Regions from separate parts of the Homo sapiens genome. Here region 1 is linked to region 2. The links come from fine-mapping of genetic effects on gene expression. Tissue or cell type: pancreatic islets. Region 2 holds a variant in brackets; the other region holds the start of a gene. All regions are shown on one strand. Distances are from middle to middle.

Region 1 (8,178 bases), 79 kb before region 2:
GTTTCAAAACAACTTATGTAACCTTGCTCATTTTGCCTTTAAAACCTTTGCCTTCCTTTCCCTCTCTGGGTACATCCATGGCCCTTCATGAGGTGCATACATATCCCAGATTGCAATCTTGAGGATTCACAAATAAACTCACTGTCTTTGGAGAATCTCTCTGTTGTTATTTCAGGTTGACAACTTTCTCTCTTCCCATGACAGCAAAGCCCTTTTATTTCTTTCTGTTTTTTTTTTTTAGATGAAGTTTCACTCTTGTTGCCCAGGCTGGAGTGCAATGGCGCGATCTCGGCTCACTGCAACCTCCGCCTCTCAGGTTCAAGTGATTCTCCTGCCTTAGCCTCCCAAGTAGCTGGGATTACAGGCATGTACCACCACGCCCGGCTAAGTTTTTTGTATTTTTAGTAGAGATGGGGTTTCTCCATGATGGTCAGGCTGGTCTCCAACTCCCAACCTCAGGTGATCCTCCCGCCTCGGCCTCCCAAAGTGCTGGGATTACAGGCGTGAGCCACCACACCTGGCCAACAAAGCCCTTTTCTCGTTCAAAACCCTTTCTTCCCAATCCTTACCTGATTATCCCAGCTGGCCACATAATTCTCTTCACTATCTCTCAGCATTAGTTAATATAGCTCAACACAGTTGTAAATAACTTGTAAGTTTTATATTTTAAAAATGTCTCAAATAAGTGTTTACTATCATCTCTATTTCATCATGAAGACTCCAAAGGTTAGAACTTTCTATCTCCTGTCTATTTATGTCCCGTATTTCTCTCCACACCCAAAGCAGTGCATACATTTTGGAGCCAGACAAATCCCAGTTTGCGTTTCGACTCCACCGCTCACAAAGCTGAGTAGGTTATGTAAATTTCCTGAGTCTCTTCAAGAATCTGCAGAATGGGTTTGTTATGAAGATTAAGCAGATGATGTACCATCAGGTCCAAGATTCTGGAAGTGCTCCATAACAGTAGTAATTATCAGTGGATAATTTCTTTATTTGTAATATGAAGATATTACCTTTTGCTCTTAATGAACCTTGTGGTAATGTAGTGAGAATTAAAAGAAGTAGTAAGTCATAGAAATAAAACTTCATGGTTTAATTGGAGCCCTGTGAAGACTAGCTGGAGAAGTTCAAGGCCTCAAATGAGATATTAGACTAATGAGGCTTTTGTCTAAATTTAACACATTTAACAAACCCTTCTTGGTTACTTACTGAGCTCTGCACTACCTAGGTCAAGCCTCATGTGGATATGAAAGACAGAAGGTCACATTTATCCTAGAGATTTGTATCTATATTGCAGGGGGAAAGGGATACGGACATGAGTTATGCTTATACTTGTCCATGTTTCTTTTCTCTCTCAGGAGGGATGATTCAGAGTCAGCAATTCACATATGCAGTACTGCACATGGAAAGTATTACTGTTATTCTGTGGGGAAATAAGTTTCTAAGTGCAGCAATCTGAAATTAATAACTTTCTCTGTGGAAACTCTCTTGACAACATCTCGAGATGAAGCCAAAGAGCACAATTTTTATGGCTTTGGATTATCTTCTCTGTCTGCTTGGCTTGCACCAGGCATGGATCTGTGAGCCAGAAATTCAGTTTTCCCCTTCGTTGTACAATTTGCCTGCCAGCTGGAGGCCTAATATAGCAGTGACTCAATTTCTCAATTCTCCAATTTATCCACCCATCAAATCAAGGCAAATAATCTCAATTTACTTATTAGAGGCTTTGGGGAACTCAAGAAAAAAAAGACCAAAATCTTTACCGTGACTACAAAACATTTTGGTTGAGGACATAGGAAAAGGAGATTAGAAGTTGGAGATCAATTTTCTTTTACTTTCAATGCAAAATATTTCTATGATAAAGCCTGTTATTTATATTATGATAAATATTTGTGTCCACATGCAGGGAGTATATAGATATTGAGGGAGAAAGTAATTTAGGAAAGAAATAGAAGGGTAGCAACATCTTTTCCACAAAAGCCACAGCACTGCAGACATGCATAAAGATTGCAGTTGTTGCTCCAATAGCCTTATGTGGTAGGCCGACAAATTCTTTTTTCTTTTTCTTTTTTTTTTTCAGAGATTGTGTCTCACTATGTTGCCCAGGTTGGTCTCGAACTCCTGGCTCCTGGGCTCACGTGATCCTCGAGTCTCAGGCTCTCAAAGTGCTGAGATTACAGATGTGAGCCACTGTGCCCAGTGGACATTCTTTTTTATTCTTTCTTACACGTAAATGTAGACAATCTGGACAAAGAAGTCTGGATTTCTACTTTCCACTGCTGACATTTTAAAAAATTTCAAATTAGATTTTTGCACCCTTTATACAAGACTACATGGCAGGACATTATGTTTGATTCACTGTACCTGATTACATTTAAATGTTGTTTTTCTGGATTATAAACAACAACTGAGGGACAGAGTAAGGAGGCTCTAAATAGACTTGAGAGCTTGGAATGTTGCTACATTTGTTCGCTCTCCCAGCATGTTAATATGTGAGACTAATACTTGGAAATAGCGACAGATATAGAGGAGTTTGGATGCTGAGAGAGAACTCAAAGTGAAGATGGTAAACATCTAGAGTTTTTATTGATTACAATTTTCTCATATATACAGAAACCTCAGGGTGTGTTCTAAACACAGTTCTCTTTTAAAATACATAATTAACTAAACTTCAAAATTAGAAGCTAAGACAATAATCATATTAATATAACCTCTACACTGCCAACTTGGAAAGGCAATGAAGAAGAAATGGGAATTGCAACAAGCTTCAGAGATGGAAGATTTTGTTTTTCTCTGTAGGACATGTGGGTAGAAGCAATTGCAGATGGCTGGGTGTGAAAGAAACAGACCTTGCAAGCCTGCTATATAGCTATACTGTGCTACATGGCATTGGGAGGTAATAAGATTTAAAAGACAAATACTCTTGTCTTCACAAAGCTTATAATTTAGTTGTGCAATACTGGGTAAGAAAGCTGGCTTAATGGAGTTGTATTCCAGCTTCACCCCTTAGTAGCTCTGTGTCATTGGGTGAGATATTTAATTTCTTTGGGCATAACTTCCTCATCTGTGAAACACTGATAATTGTATCTCCTATATGGCAGCTATGCCAGCCTCCTTTCTGTTCTTCCACAAGACAATCTCTCTCTGGACCGCCCTTTGCACCTGTTCCTGTGGTCGGGAAAGCCTTTAGCATGGCCAAACCCTTCAAGTTTTGACTTCATGTCACCGAGTCAGGGAGCTTTTTTGGAAAATATTGTTTCCGATTCCGCAGATGAGGCTGTTAAAATACTAAAGGATGGCATAAACATGAGGATGCTATTATAATCATCCACCCTAAGTAGGATTTGAGATCCAAGCAGTTCTCAAGGATTTAGGGTTAGCAAACTTTTTCTGTAAAATGTCAGATAGCAAGTATTATAGGGTTTGCAGGCCATACCAAACAAATGGGTGCTGCTGTGTTCCAATAAAACTTTATTTATGGACACTGAAACTTGAATTTCATGTACTTTTCACAGTCATGGTGGCAGACCGGATTTGGCCCCCTCCCTGTCGCTGGCTGACCCCTGGTTTATGAGTACGGCAGATAAAAGAAGGGAGTGAATAAGAACCACGATTCTGCTGCCAGACACGAGGGATCAGGTCGCTGCTGTGAAGATTGTCAACCTCTCTGGTTGCCAACGACCTCGAGAATGGGGTTGTGGTCCCTGCGTCAGGGCGGTTGTGCTGAAGGCTGGATGAGGGCACGTAGGTGAAGCTCAGTGCTTGGCACGAGGTGCTCATCAGCAGCATCGCCCTTGCTTTGGGCTGGCCTGTTAGTAATTCGTTTTTAGTGGAATCGAATACAACACTTGAGCCTCGGAGGCTCAGGTCGTCGGAGCAACTACACCAGGGCCGGTGCACCTCGGGGCGGCGGCGCAGGACTAGGCTAGGCCGGGCCGGGCCGGGCAGGGCGGCGCGAGTCGGGGGTGGGGCGGCGGCGCAGCGCCGTCGTCGTAGTCCCCGCCTCTTCCCCAGGGGCCGCGTCGGAGCCTCGGCGGCGGCGGCGGTGCTTACAGCCTGAGAAGAGCGTCTCGCCCGGGAGCGGCGGCGGCCATCGAGACCCACCCAAGGCGCGTCCCCCTCGGCCTCCCAGCGCTCCCAAGCCGCAGCGGCCGCGCCCCTTCAGCTAGCTCGCTCGCTCGCTCTGCTTCCCTGCTGCCGGCTGCGCCATGGCGTTGGCGTTGGCGGCGCTGGCGGCGGTCGAGCCGGCCTGCGGCAGCCGGTACCAGCAGGTAAGCGGCGCCCGACTCCAGCCCCGAACTCCGGTCCCTGGCTCTGCCCTGCCCGCTGGCCGCCTCAGGCCTCTCTGGCCGGCCCGCGGCCAACTCGACGCCGGGGCTTGGCAGGCCGCGCTGGGCCTGGAGGGGCGGGTCGGGCCCCGGGCTCGGATTCGAGGCTGCCACGGGCCCGGCCTGCCCGTCTGCGACCCCAGGTGGGACTCCGGCGGTGGAAAGTCCTCCTCCCGGCCTCGTTTCCCGCATTTCCCAGGGCGGGCGGGTCCCTGAGTCAGAACCCGCGACCCACAGGCGGCATCGATCTGAGGCATTCGTTTTTCATTTTTCCACCTTTGGTTTGATGTCATTGGAAAAGAAAGAAAGAAAAAAGCATGAAACGGAAACTGGGTGGAGAGAAAAGATTAAAATCTCTGCTGCTGCCGATAGCTCCCCACAGCAAGATGCTATTGCTCAGGGTTTCAGAGCCTAGTTTGTCGAAACCCATCCCCCTCGCCTCCGTTTTAAGACAAAAGTAAAAAATGAAGCAAGAGACAAGCCCGCAGTTTGCAGTAGATTTGGAAGAGGCGATGTTTGGCTGTGGTGATGCCCCAAAAGGGAGAGCTACGATGAAGTCTGCAGGGCGTGTGCCGGGTGTATTTTAAATGCTTGGAAGTGACGTTTTAAGAGATTTGATGGCATAGCTGGGGAGGAAATGTATAGGAAATGATTGGATCATTTTCTCGGGTTTGATTTAATACATTGAGGCCCCAGGGAAAAGAGCTGCTTGTTTCACTCCGCGTCTGTAGCTAAGTTCCCCCAGGAAATTTAGAGACCTTCTGCAGGGTTTTTGGAAGTGTTAATCTAACATACAGTAATGGTGGGAATTGAGCCAGGTGGTAAACTGATGTTGATTGGAACCGCAAATAACGGCTTGTGTTTGTCATGTTTCAGATGCTTTCGGTGCATACAGATGTCAATCCTCCTTTTATCAAATAAAATGTCCTATCTTAGACGATCTACAATTTTATATTTTAGAAGTAAGGAAAGCCAGCCAGTACGATGAAAACGTAGATTAACCCTGGTGCGGCCGGCCGGTTACTGGTTTGTTTTGCTATCATCAGCCATGTGTTGCAATCCGTCCCCACTCAGGCTTGGACTCCCAAAATGACTAGTTAAGAATTTCACTTCTTGGTTTTATAAACACGGCCCAAATTGTGGCAATGCAGTTAATCCTTAGATCTCTTCAGAGCACATGGATCTAGCACATGCTTTTTTTCTATGACCTTGGGCAGCCTGCGGGTTCCTTACTGCTTTAATAAAATGGGAATAACAGATGCCACTTAACTGTCACCACAGTGTTTGCAAATCACCCCTACTGTATACTGTCATCTGATTTCATCCTTTTCATCCTGACTTGGATAAGGCTAACGAGCAAAAGAGCTGTGGTTTTTCTTTGTACTGCCATCTTCTTGAGCTATTAGGTAATGCTGACATACTGCTAGAATATAAAAAATTTGCTGGAGTATCAAAATCATGTATTCCTTAGTGTGGCATTTAATATTTTTTAATTATGCAGAATTGAAGTATAAAAAAAAGAGAAAAAAATCTTCCTAGAAAAATTGTAAAAGATGAAAGCCCAAAAAACTGCAAAACCCTCCCTAAACAAAAACCAAATAGATAACCAAAGGTAATATTTTAATGTGCATTCTTGTGGGTTTATAGCTATGTAAATATACATAGTTATAGATCAGTATATGTGTGTACAGATAAGGAATGCAGGAAAGCTAATATTGATTTTTTTATGCAACAATCACAGTATTAAGTAATTTACATCCATTTTTTTTTTCTTTTAATTCATACCAAACCCTTATGAACCAGGGTTTGTTCTCATTGTCAAAGACTCAAAGTGGCTCAGTAACTTGCCTCAAGGTCACAGGCTGCTAAGTAGTGATTATAAGGATATACACACACTCACCTACTTAAAACACAGGCTCACAGTCCAGATATAGGTGTATGCATTAGCAGATATATACACATGCATATGTATTCTCTTATGTACCCATATATACGTATACAGACATATCTTTGTACATTTGTGTGCAGTTTTATGAGCCCCGATCATACTTGCACATACTTTTGCACGTGTCCATGTGTATCTTGTTCTCAGACATGTGCATTCATACATTTGCACATGTGTATCATGCACATGTATCTACAAAGGCATGCTAGATAAATAATGAAATAGGTTCATAATTCTATTTTGTAATGTTCTTCACACAATGTTATTAATGTCTTCTATATAAAATATTTTTAATGTCTGCATGGCATGTAATTGTATGGCTGAATCATAATTTAACTAATTGCTTATCTTTGGTCACTAAGAATGTTTACAGTTTTTTTCATTGAAATTTATTTCACATACGTCTTCAACCGTTTCCTTAGCATAAATTACTAGCCATGGAAATGCCTGGTCAGCGAATATGCATTTTTAAAAGGCTTTTGAATTATAGAATGATGGTGAATTGTCCAGGCAACTTGATAGGAGCATGATACTCTTTGGTTGTCACACAGGGCTGTTCTGACTTCTATTTGATCTGGTTAATCAAATTGAGCTAGTTTTCTCACCAAGTAAATGTAATGGAAAACTGTATGATTCATTCATAAATGCAAACACAGTTTTGTCTTTATGGTCTTTTTATTGGTAGTGTAATATGTGGACAACTTGAATTTAGCATAGTGACAGACTATGCAGAAAGGGTAGGCTCAACCAGGTGTGGTGGCTCACACCTGTAATCACAGCACTTTGGGAGGCCGAGGTGGGCGGATCACTTGAGGTCAGGAGTTCGAGACCAGCCTGGCCAACATGGCAAAACCTTGCCTCTACTAAAAATACAAAAATTAGCCAGGTGTGGTGGCACTCACCTGTAATCCCAGCTACTTGGGAGGCTGAGGCAGGAGAATTGCTTGAACCTGGGAGGCAGAAGTTGCAGTGAGCCAAGATTGTGCCACTGAACCCCAGCCTGGGTGACAGAGTGGGACTGTCTCAAAAAAAACCAAAACAAAACAAAACAAAAAATGGCCAGGCAAGGTGGCTCATGCCTGTAATCCCAGCACTTTGGGAGGCCAAGGCAGGCAGATCACAAAGATCACGAGGTCAAGAGATTGAGACCATCCTGGCCAACATGTGAAACCCCATCTCTATTAAAAATACAAAAATTAGCTGGGCGTGGTGGCGTGCACCTGTAGTCCCAGCTACTCAGGAGGCTGAGGCAGGAGAATCGCTTGAACCTGGGAGGCAGATGTTTCAGTGAACTGAGATCGTGCCACTGCACTCCTGCCTGGCGACAGAGCAAGACTCTGTTTAAAAAAAAAAGCACGGTGTGGTGGTGCACATCTGTAACTCCAGCTACTTGGGAGGCTGAGGCAGGAAAATCACTTGAACCCAGGAGGCAGAGTTTGCAGTAGGCTGGGATCGCGCCACTGTACTCCAGGTTGGGTGAGCAAGACTGTCTTAAAAAAAAAAAAAAAAAAAGGCACCGAGGTGGGCGGATCACAAGGTCAGGAGATCGAGACCATCCTGGCTAACATGGTGAAACCCCATCTCTACTAAAAATACAAAAAATTAGTTGGGCGTGGTGGCACGTGCCTGTAGTAGTCCCAGCTACTCGGGAGGCTGAGGCAGGAGAAACCCGGGAGGTGAAGATTGCAGTGAGCCGAGATCGCGCCACTGCACTCCAGGCTGGGCGACGAAGTGAGACTCTGTCCAAAAAAAAAAAAAAGAGGCTAGGCTTATAGGTTCCCCTGGCATTATTTTATTTTTTTTTTCATTTTTGCCTTTTGAAACTGAGACTGTCTCAGACAGTATGGAAGCACTATTTTAGAAAGACCTAAGTAGGCCCATACTGAGTGCTGAGAAACCTGTTGC
Region 2 (8,178 bases):
ACAACAATCTTGTCAAGTTCATGCTATCATTTCCATTTCACAGACAAGGAAAATTGAAACCAAGAGGATGGGTAAGTCCATGGTTACATAGTTGGTGAACAGAAAAGCTGGGAGTCTAACCTGTCTCTCTCAGGCTTCAGAGGGCATGGCCTCCACACCAGCACTCTCCTGGTGGAGGGGTTGATGCTGCCACGAGAGTCTCTTCTCCCCTTGATTTTTTCTCTTCTCTTCTCTTCCTTTCTTCCTCCTATCCCCTCCACCCATTTCTTAATGATTCTTTAATTAACCAAGCAAGGTTAGAAAACTTTGATGAGCTTCCTCTAGCAGTGGGGCCGTTTATCTTTTTTTCTTTTTTTTTTTTTTTTGAGGCAGAGTTTCGCTCTTGCTGCCCAGGCTGGAGGGCAATGGCGCAATCTCAGGTCACTTCAACCTCCACCTCCCGGGTTCAAGTGATTCTCCTGCCTCAGCCTCCCGAGTAGCTGGGATTACAGGCATGCGTCGCCACGCCCCGCTGATTTTGTATTTTTAGTAGAGATGGGGTTTCACCATGTTGGCCAGGCTGGTCTCAAACTCCTGGCCTCAGGTGATCCATTCGCCTCGGCCTTCCAAAGTGCTGGGATTACAGGCGTGAGCCACCACTCCCGGCAGGGGCCATTTATCTTTTTTTTATTTTTTTGAGACAGAGTCTTGCCCTGTTGCCCAGACTGGAGTGCAGTGGCACAACCTTGGCTCACTGCAACCTCTGCCTCCTGGGTTCAAGCAATTCTCCTGCCGCAGCCTCCCAAGTAGCTGGGACTGCAGGCACCCACCACCATGCCCAGCTAATTTTTGTAGAGTGGGGCCATTTATAATGAGGCACCGCCCTGGAGCTGCAAGGGTTAACTCTGGCCTGGTGTTCAGAGCCGAGTGCCTTGGCCTTGGGAGGCAGCTATGAGTCCTCCTTTCTAATTAAAAATCGTCACCACTGGCTTTCATCCCATGCTAACGAGAAGAGTGTATGTGAGTTTGTGCGCAGTGTGTGCATGGGTCTTTATCTCTACTTCCTGTTTCATATTTAATTTGACAATTTTTTCCAGTTTGTGGATGTGGAACACGTGTAAGGTTGGGAGCATCGTCTGTTAGTAATCATTACCGCATTTTGGGGCTGGCTTGCTCCCACTGAGCCTGACCAAAGTCTTGTGGATTATGATCTTCCCGCCTCCTGAAATTGCTTTGTCCTGATCACCCTGGTTCCTGAAGGGACTGCCTTCAGGGCAGCAGTTTTGCCTTGGAAACTTTTCCAGAAGTGCTGGGATGATTCTTGTGTGTCAGGGAGAGGGGAGGTGGTACAGAAGCCCGATTTGGTAGATAAAGAACTGCAAGCTCTGGAAAACACAGCCTCCCACACCCTCCACAGTAGTTGTTTGGATTGGGGTGAACCGTAGCTCCAGCCTTTGGGTCATCCTTCATCCAGGCTGGATGAGGACATGGTTAGTCTGTGTTCACTTCTGCCTTTTCTCCAAAGTCTGGGGCCCAAACCCATCTGGACTGGACTCTCAGACCCAGCCTGCCCCCTGCTCAGCAGCATGGTCTTGCAGACCCCTGTTGTGGAGTATAGGGCCTGAGCATAGCCTCAGAGTGAGACCTCATGAGAACATGATGGGCACTGGGGGGTTGGAGAAGCTTCACCTTCTCAGCCTATCTGTGGGTATAAGGCAGTGGAAATCCTGTTGGCCGTAAGGGTCCTAGGGACCCTATCCTCATGTCACCAGTCTAAGTGGGGATTCAGAGCTGCTATCCAGGTGCCTGCTGCAAATGCCCTAGTCCTCCCACAGTGGTAACCGTTCTTACCCTACTAACTATTGAGCCTTAGAAACACTTCCTGGGTGTTTCTGAGCCACTGAGATTTTTTTTATCATCAGACTGATTGCTAAGGATTATCTCATGTATTGAATGGGAGCAAATCAGTTGTAGAATAAGAGCTGGAAGAAATTTACCAATCGGTCTGACCTGGGAAGTACTGTATCTGGGAAGTACTGTTCCAAGACTGAGAAGTCTTGGAACTGCTGAAATACAGTGCACAATTCTGTGTGGTGTGCATCTTTCCAGGGAGAGGGTCCATGGCCTTCATGAGCTTCCCAAATTGTCTGGGACTTCTCCAAAAAGTTAAGAATCACTGGTACAATCACCCCTTCACCCCACCGAAGAGTGCTATAGAATGGGTCCCAATGAACAGGGTTGGGGGAGGTTCAGAGGGGGTGAAGTACTCATAGACTTGTGTAAATGGTTCTAGGTCTCATACTTTCAGGTGATGAGAGTGGGTGGGGGAGGATTGAGAGAGATAAATCCTTTGTATTTCTTTGCAGTAAATCGTTTATATTTCTTTGCATCAACTTTTGGTGATGAGAGTGGGTGGGGGAGGACTGGGTAGAAATAAATAGTTTGTGTTTCTTTGCAGACAAGGATAATCCATTTTTATTATTTGCTCTTAGCTTTGTGGATGTACATTAAAGAGTCTGAAGTATAAAGAATTATAACCATCCCAGACTCCCTGACTTTGAATAATCCATTATAAAAGTACAGTTCCTTTTATCACAATATTCTTATCTTCTGTTTGTTTCTGAGCTAAAAAGAAATGCCCTAAGCTACACCCCAGCTGCAGAGTTTCTAGACCAAAGGCTACTGTTTTTTTCCTGCAGGAACCCTGGGGTGTTTGGGGGTTAAAAGGCCTGGGCCAGCCATGTGTGTTTAAAAAACAAGGCTGACTCCAAAGCTGGTGGCTCCAGCCTGACTCCATCCTGCTGTTAATGGAGGACAGAGGACCACTTACAGCTTCCTCTTCACCCCATAACAAATAACCCGGCGCTCCCCCAGGCCTTCCTGCACCCCCACCCGCACCGCCCTCCCGGTGGTGGCAGCAGCAAGCGCATGTTCTGAATCTGGTTTCTCGGCAGGCCCTGTGGTCAGCCCCGACAAGCTGTCTGAGACCCAGCTCCTTTCAGAGATAAGGCCCAAACTAACCACATTAGCAGGGTGCTTGGCCTGTTTGCCTTGCCTCTGTCTTCTGTTTGGACACTCCAGAACCTCTTGCGCAGGGTGGAGGCCTTTGCCCTACAGAGTGTGGTCCAGCTTTGAGCAGAGGCTCCTCTGGTGCCTCCTCTGGGAAGTCCTCCCTGACTGCTCTAGCCCAGGTGATGGCTCTTTGTTGCATTCATTTAGCAAATATTTGTCATGCACCTTTTAAAAATTCTTTATCACAGCTTGTACAAACACAGCTTAGCATATCAGCACCGTCACTCCCATTTACTCATTGTGCACCCAGCTTGGCACTAAGCATCTGACAGAAAATATTTTATTGACTCAGCACGAGAGTCCTGTGAAATTGGCATCATCAGCATCCCATTTTACAGACAGGAAAATTGAGGCATTTTTATGTTTTGTTCTCTTTCCTTTTCCTCCCTCCCTCCCTTCCTTCCTCCCTTTCTTCCTCCCTCCCTCTCTTCCTTCCTTTCTTTTTGACAGGGTCTTGCTCTCTTACCCAGGCTGGAGTGCAGCGGCATGATCACAGCTCACTGCAACCTCAACCTCCAGAGCTCAGGTGAACCTCCCACCTCAGTCTCCTGAGTAGCTGGGACTACATGTCTGGCCACTGCATCTGGCAGTATTTCTTTTTCTTAGCTTTTATTATCCTCTGTGGTTACATCATGTGTTTATCTGGTTACTTGTTTCATATCTGGCTCAAGTATTATATCATGAGCTCCATGGGGCAGGGATTTCCCTCCCAAGGTGGTGGGGACCTGGCATGAGCAGTACCTGTCACCTGGGAGGTACTTAGTAGATGCTTGCTCAATGGCTAAGACACAGGAGGCTGTCACTAGTCCACAGCTTCATACCTGGTCAGCAGTGAAGCTGGGATTTGAACCCAGGTCCCTGTGTGCAGTCATTGCATCCAGTAGTTTCTGTCCATGTGTGAGTTCTTGTCCCCGGCCAGACCATCAGCTCCTTCAGGCCGGCCCAGGTCTTACCTGAAAGGGCACCAGGGCTTTGAAGTGGGGTCCACCTGGATTAAAACACTGGTTCCGCCACTCAGTTGGGTGACACTTGGAACATTCCCTATCCATTCTAAACCCACATGGGCGCATTTCTAAAACTGGAAAAATAATGCCTAGTTGTTGTGAGAACTGGAAATAGTATGTGGGGTGCCTGGTTTTATCATAGGTGCTCAGTGAAAGGACAGCTAACATGAGACCGGACTCAACCTAACTTCTCAGGAAGCCAGGGGACTGGGTTAAAAAAGCTTGGAAATCTGTCCTCTTTTATTAGATTATAAAACTATAAAACATGAGTACATGCTCATTGGAAGAAGAAGAAGAAGGAGAAGAAGAAGGAAAGGAGGGAAGGAAGGAAGGAAGGAAGGAAAGAGAAGGGAAGGGAAGGAA[G/GGGAAGGAA]GGAAGGAAGGAAGGAAGAAAGGAAGGAAAGAAGGCCGGCCACAGTGGCTCAAGCCTGTAATCCCAGCACTTTGGGAGGCCGAGGTGAGCGGATCACAAGGTCAGGAGTTCGAGACCAGCCTGGCCAACATGGTGAAACCTTGTCTCTACTAAAAATACAAAAATTAGCTGGGCTTGGTGGCGGATGCCTATAGTTCCAGCTACTCGGGAGGCTGAGGCAGGAGAATCACTTGAATCCGGGAGGCAGAGGTTGCAGTGAGCCGAGACTGCACCACTACACTCCAGCCTGGGCAACAGAGCAAGACTCCGTCAAAAAAAAGGAAGGAAGGAAGGAGAAGAAGAAGGAGGAGGAAGAGGAAGAAGAAGAGGAGGAGGAGGAAGAAGCAGCAGAAGAAATTAAACTGTATAGAAATCAAAAGTGAAAGTTTGTATACGCTTTTTTGCCCCAAATCCATTTTTTCCCCCAATAAGTAAATACTGTTGATGGTTTGGTGTATATCTTTTTGATAGTTTTAAATGTGTTTACCCAAATCACATATTTTTTACATAGCAAAATCATACTAGGCATATGGTTTTAAAAATTGCTTTTTTTGGCCGGGTGCGGTGGCTCACACCTGTAAAGCACTTTGGGAGCCAAGGAGGGCAGATCATGAGATCAAGAGATTGAGACCATCCTGGCCAACATGGTGAAACCCCATCGATACTAAAAAATACAAAAATTAGCTAGGTGTGGTGGCGTGTGCCTGTAGTCCCAGCTACTAGAGGCTGAGGCGGGAGAATCGCTTGAACCCGGGAGGCAGAGGTTGCAGTGAGCGAGATTGCGCCACTGCGCTCCAGCCTGGTGACAGAGCGAGACTCCGTCTCAAAAAACAAACAAAAAATTGTTTTTTTCATTAACCTATCTTGGGGGCCTTCCTCTGTCACTTCATTCAGATTCACAGCAATCTTCTTAATGGCTGTGCAGCATTTCTGGTATGGCTGGACTATAATTTATGCAACCATTCTCCTACTGATGGCTTTTTGCTTCCAATTTTTTCTCTATTTCATACAAGATGACAATGAATATTGTTTCTGTTATCTATTCCTAAGTAACAAATCCCTCGAAATTAAATGGCTTAAAACAATAATTCATTATTCCCCATGTTTCTGTAGGTGGACTAAGTGGTGGCTCTGCCTCCTGTGGTGCTGGACAGGGAGGGTCCGAACGTTCTCACTGGTGGGGCTGGTAGTTGGTGCTGGCTGGTGCTGGGCTGGGGCTATCCCCAGGAGCGCCTTTGGCTTCCCTCTTACTGGTCTCTCCATGTGGCTTGAGTTTCTCGCAGCATGGGTCCGGGTTCCAGAATGTCACTGCTGCCATACTCTATTGATCAAAGTCAGTCACAAGGCAAGCCCAGATTCAAAGGGGGTGGGAGCCAAGCTCTGCCTCTTGATGTGGGGTGCAGCATGTGTGCATGTGCGGGGAGAGGAAGACCTGCAGGGGGCCGTGTACTAATAATACGCACTCTCCTCAACATGATACAAGAGCACTTATTTCTCCATACCCTCACCAGGGTTGGATGTTATCCATTGTTTTCATCATAGTCCATCTCGTGGATGTAAAATTATAACTCGTTTTTAGTTTTAGAGGTGCTGAGCATCTTTTTATGTGTTTCACTTTAAAAAAATTTTTTTGAGACAGGGTCTCGTTCTGTCACCCAGGCTGGAGTGCAGTGGCACCATCATAGCTCATTGTAGCCTCGAACTCCTGGACTCAAGTGATCTTTCTGCTTTAGCTTCCTGAGTAACTGAGACCACAGGTGTGCACCCCCTCCACACACACACACACACACACACACACACACACACAATTTTAAGAGATGGGATCGTGCTATGTTGGCCAGTATGTTCTGAGAGTTCAATTTGGGAATAAGTCCATGAATTTCCTATACCATCAAAGAAACAGAATGGTAGTTTGGAGCTCAGAGGGGAGGAAATATCCCATATGAGGACTCTGATTCAGGGTTTCATCAGCTAGCTCTGCTGCCTGCGAACTGACTTTGAGAGAGAGTTTCAAAGTGTTGACAAGCAGATTATTAACCCTGTGTTATCTTCAGGCTCATTCCTTACTTATAAGGGCCTGTGCTTTCAGAGGACTCTGTGATTCCCAGTAAGAGAATGTCCTGCTCTTCAGTGAAATTGTGAGGCAGCTCTGAACTCTAAGCCCTGGGGCTGGGCAAAAAATGCCCTTTTAGTGGGAGGGAGTGGGCTACCAGTAGTAAGATGGCGGGTAAACCTCCGTTAAATGGCCTACTATTAACGTACATTTCAGGCTTTTTCCCTCTGCTATTCCCACGTTCCCAAGAGAAGAAAGGTAACAGAATATAGGCCATGGTAACTTTGATGGAATAGTCCAGGGTTTAATTCAAAGATGCTCACTGGTCAAAGTGGGTCCCACTGCTTTTCCAGCTTTTGATTCAAGCTTCAGTCTCCGAGAGTTTGCACACTAGTATGTCACACAGGACCATTTTGGTTATAAGACCCAGAAAAGCCCATGCCCACTCTGGCTTAATAACGAAGCAGTTTGGCTGGGCGCAGTGGCTCACGCCTGTAATCCCAGCACTTTGGGAGGCTGAGGTGGGTGGATCACAAGGTCAGGAGTTCGAGACCTGCCTTGCCAACATAGTGAAAACCCTGTCTCTACTAAAAATAGAAAAAATTAGCCAGACATGGTGGTGGGCGCCTGTAATCCCAGCTACTCGGGAGGCTGAGGCAGGAGAATGGATTGATCCCGGGAGGCAGAGGTTGCAGTAGGCCGAGACTGCACCACTGCACTCCAGCCTGGGCAACAGTGTGAGACTCTGTCTCAAAAAAAAACAAAAGAGAAAAGAAAAAAAGAAAAAAGAAGCAATTTATTGGATCATATACAAGGATGCCTGGGGGTGGGGATGAGAATGGAAGGGATTCAGGGCCCAAAGAGGACACACATCAACCCTGGACTCTCTCTTCCCTCTCTTCTCGCCGTAGACTCCTTGTGAAGACAAGATGGGGTGGCACCAGCAGCCCCTCAGCCTCAGGATCGAAGTCTAGCCAGAGAGAGTGCCCGTCTCTGGCTCTGCATTCCCAGGAAAGGCCTCTGTGGCCCATTGGCTCCCCTGGGGCCATTTTTCCTTTCCTGATCTAAGCCCCGTGGCCCAGGGAATCTGGAACAGTGATTGGCTTAGGCTAGGACGTGTGTTCCTCCCCATGGCTGTGTTTTGGAGCCTCACCTTGAGGGTGGCAGGGTGGATCCCAAACCAACCCTGGGAGCTGTTCCTGAAGGCAGAGGAAAGGATACTGGGCATGTCAGAGACAAAAGTGACTGTCCCTGGTTCCTCCCCAGAGCCTGTCACACAGTCATTCATTTAGAATGTAAAATCTACAGTGGAAGGAATTTGGGCCTCCTACCTGTCCTCAGTTAAAGCTAATTCATTTCCTCCCAGGACTAGTGTTAGCAAACAAAAAATCGTGGGTCGTCCAAGAACAATTACAAATGATCCAAAACCCTCGCTTCAGTCACGGGTTGTGGTCTTAGAGCTCAGCCTTCATGGAGGAGGTGATGAAAAAGCTGGATTCTAACCCTTCTTTGTCCCTCTCGCCCTTAAGGGGAGGTGTCTGAGCAGTGAACTGGCAACAAAGGGAGGAGTGTAGGAGCTGATGGATTGAGCCCTTTCTTTCAAAATGTAATTTACAGGATTATTATTTGTAAAGTTGATTATTGCAAATTATCCATGGGGGTCTAGGG

What was found. PIP is the estimated chance that this variant, and not a neighbour inherited with it, causes the effect.
Region 1: NDFIP1 starts here. The variant in region 2 is fine-mapped to the expression of NDFIP1 in pancreatic islets (PISA, PIP 0.94).

What each region holds. Positions count from the first base shown.
Region 1 is chr5:142,104,767-142,112,944 of GRCh38, forward strand. It overlaps NDFIP1 (Nedd4 family interacting protein 1), which reads left to right and starts at 4,013. Exons shown (of 8, transcript NM_030571.4): 1 at 4,013-4,271. The coding sequence starts at 4,209. RefSeq lists an enhancer at 3,764-4,265 and silencers at 3,843-4,112, 4,173-4,302, 4,373-4,442.
Region 2 is chr5:142,184,154-142,192,331 of GRCh38, forward strand. All of the region lies in intron 1 of LOC107986455 (a long non-coding RNA gene), which reads right to left. Among named protein-coding and RNA genes, the nearest start is that of NDFIP1, 79 kb to the left of the region's middle. RefSeq lists enhancers at 151-1,047, 1,048-1,943, 2,917-3,446. The variant G/GGGAAGGAA (reference allele first, on the strand shown) is at 4,419.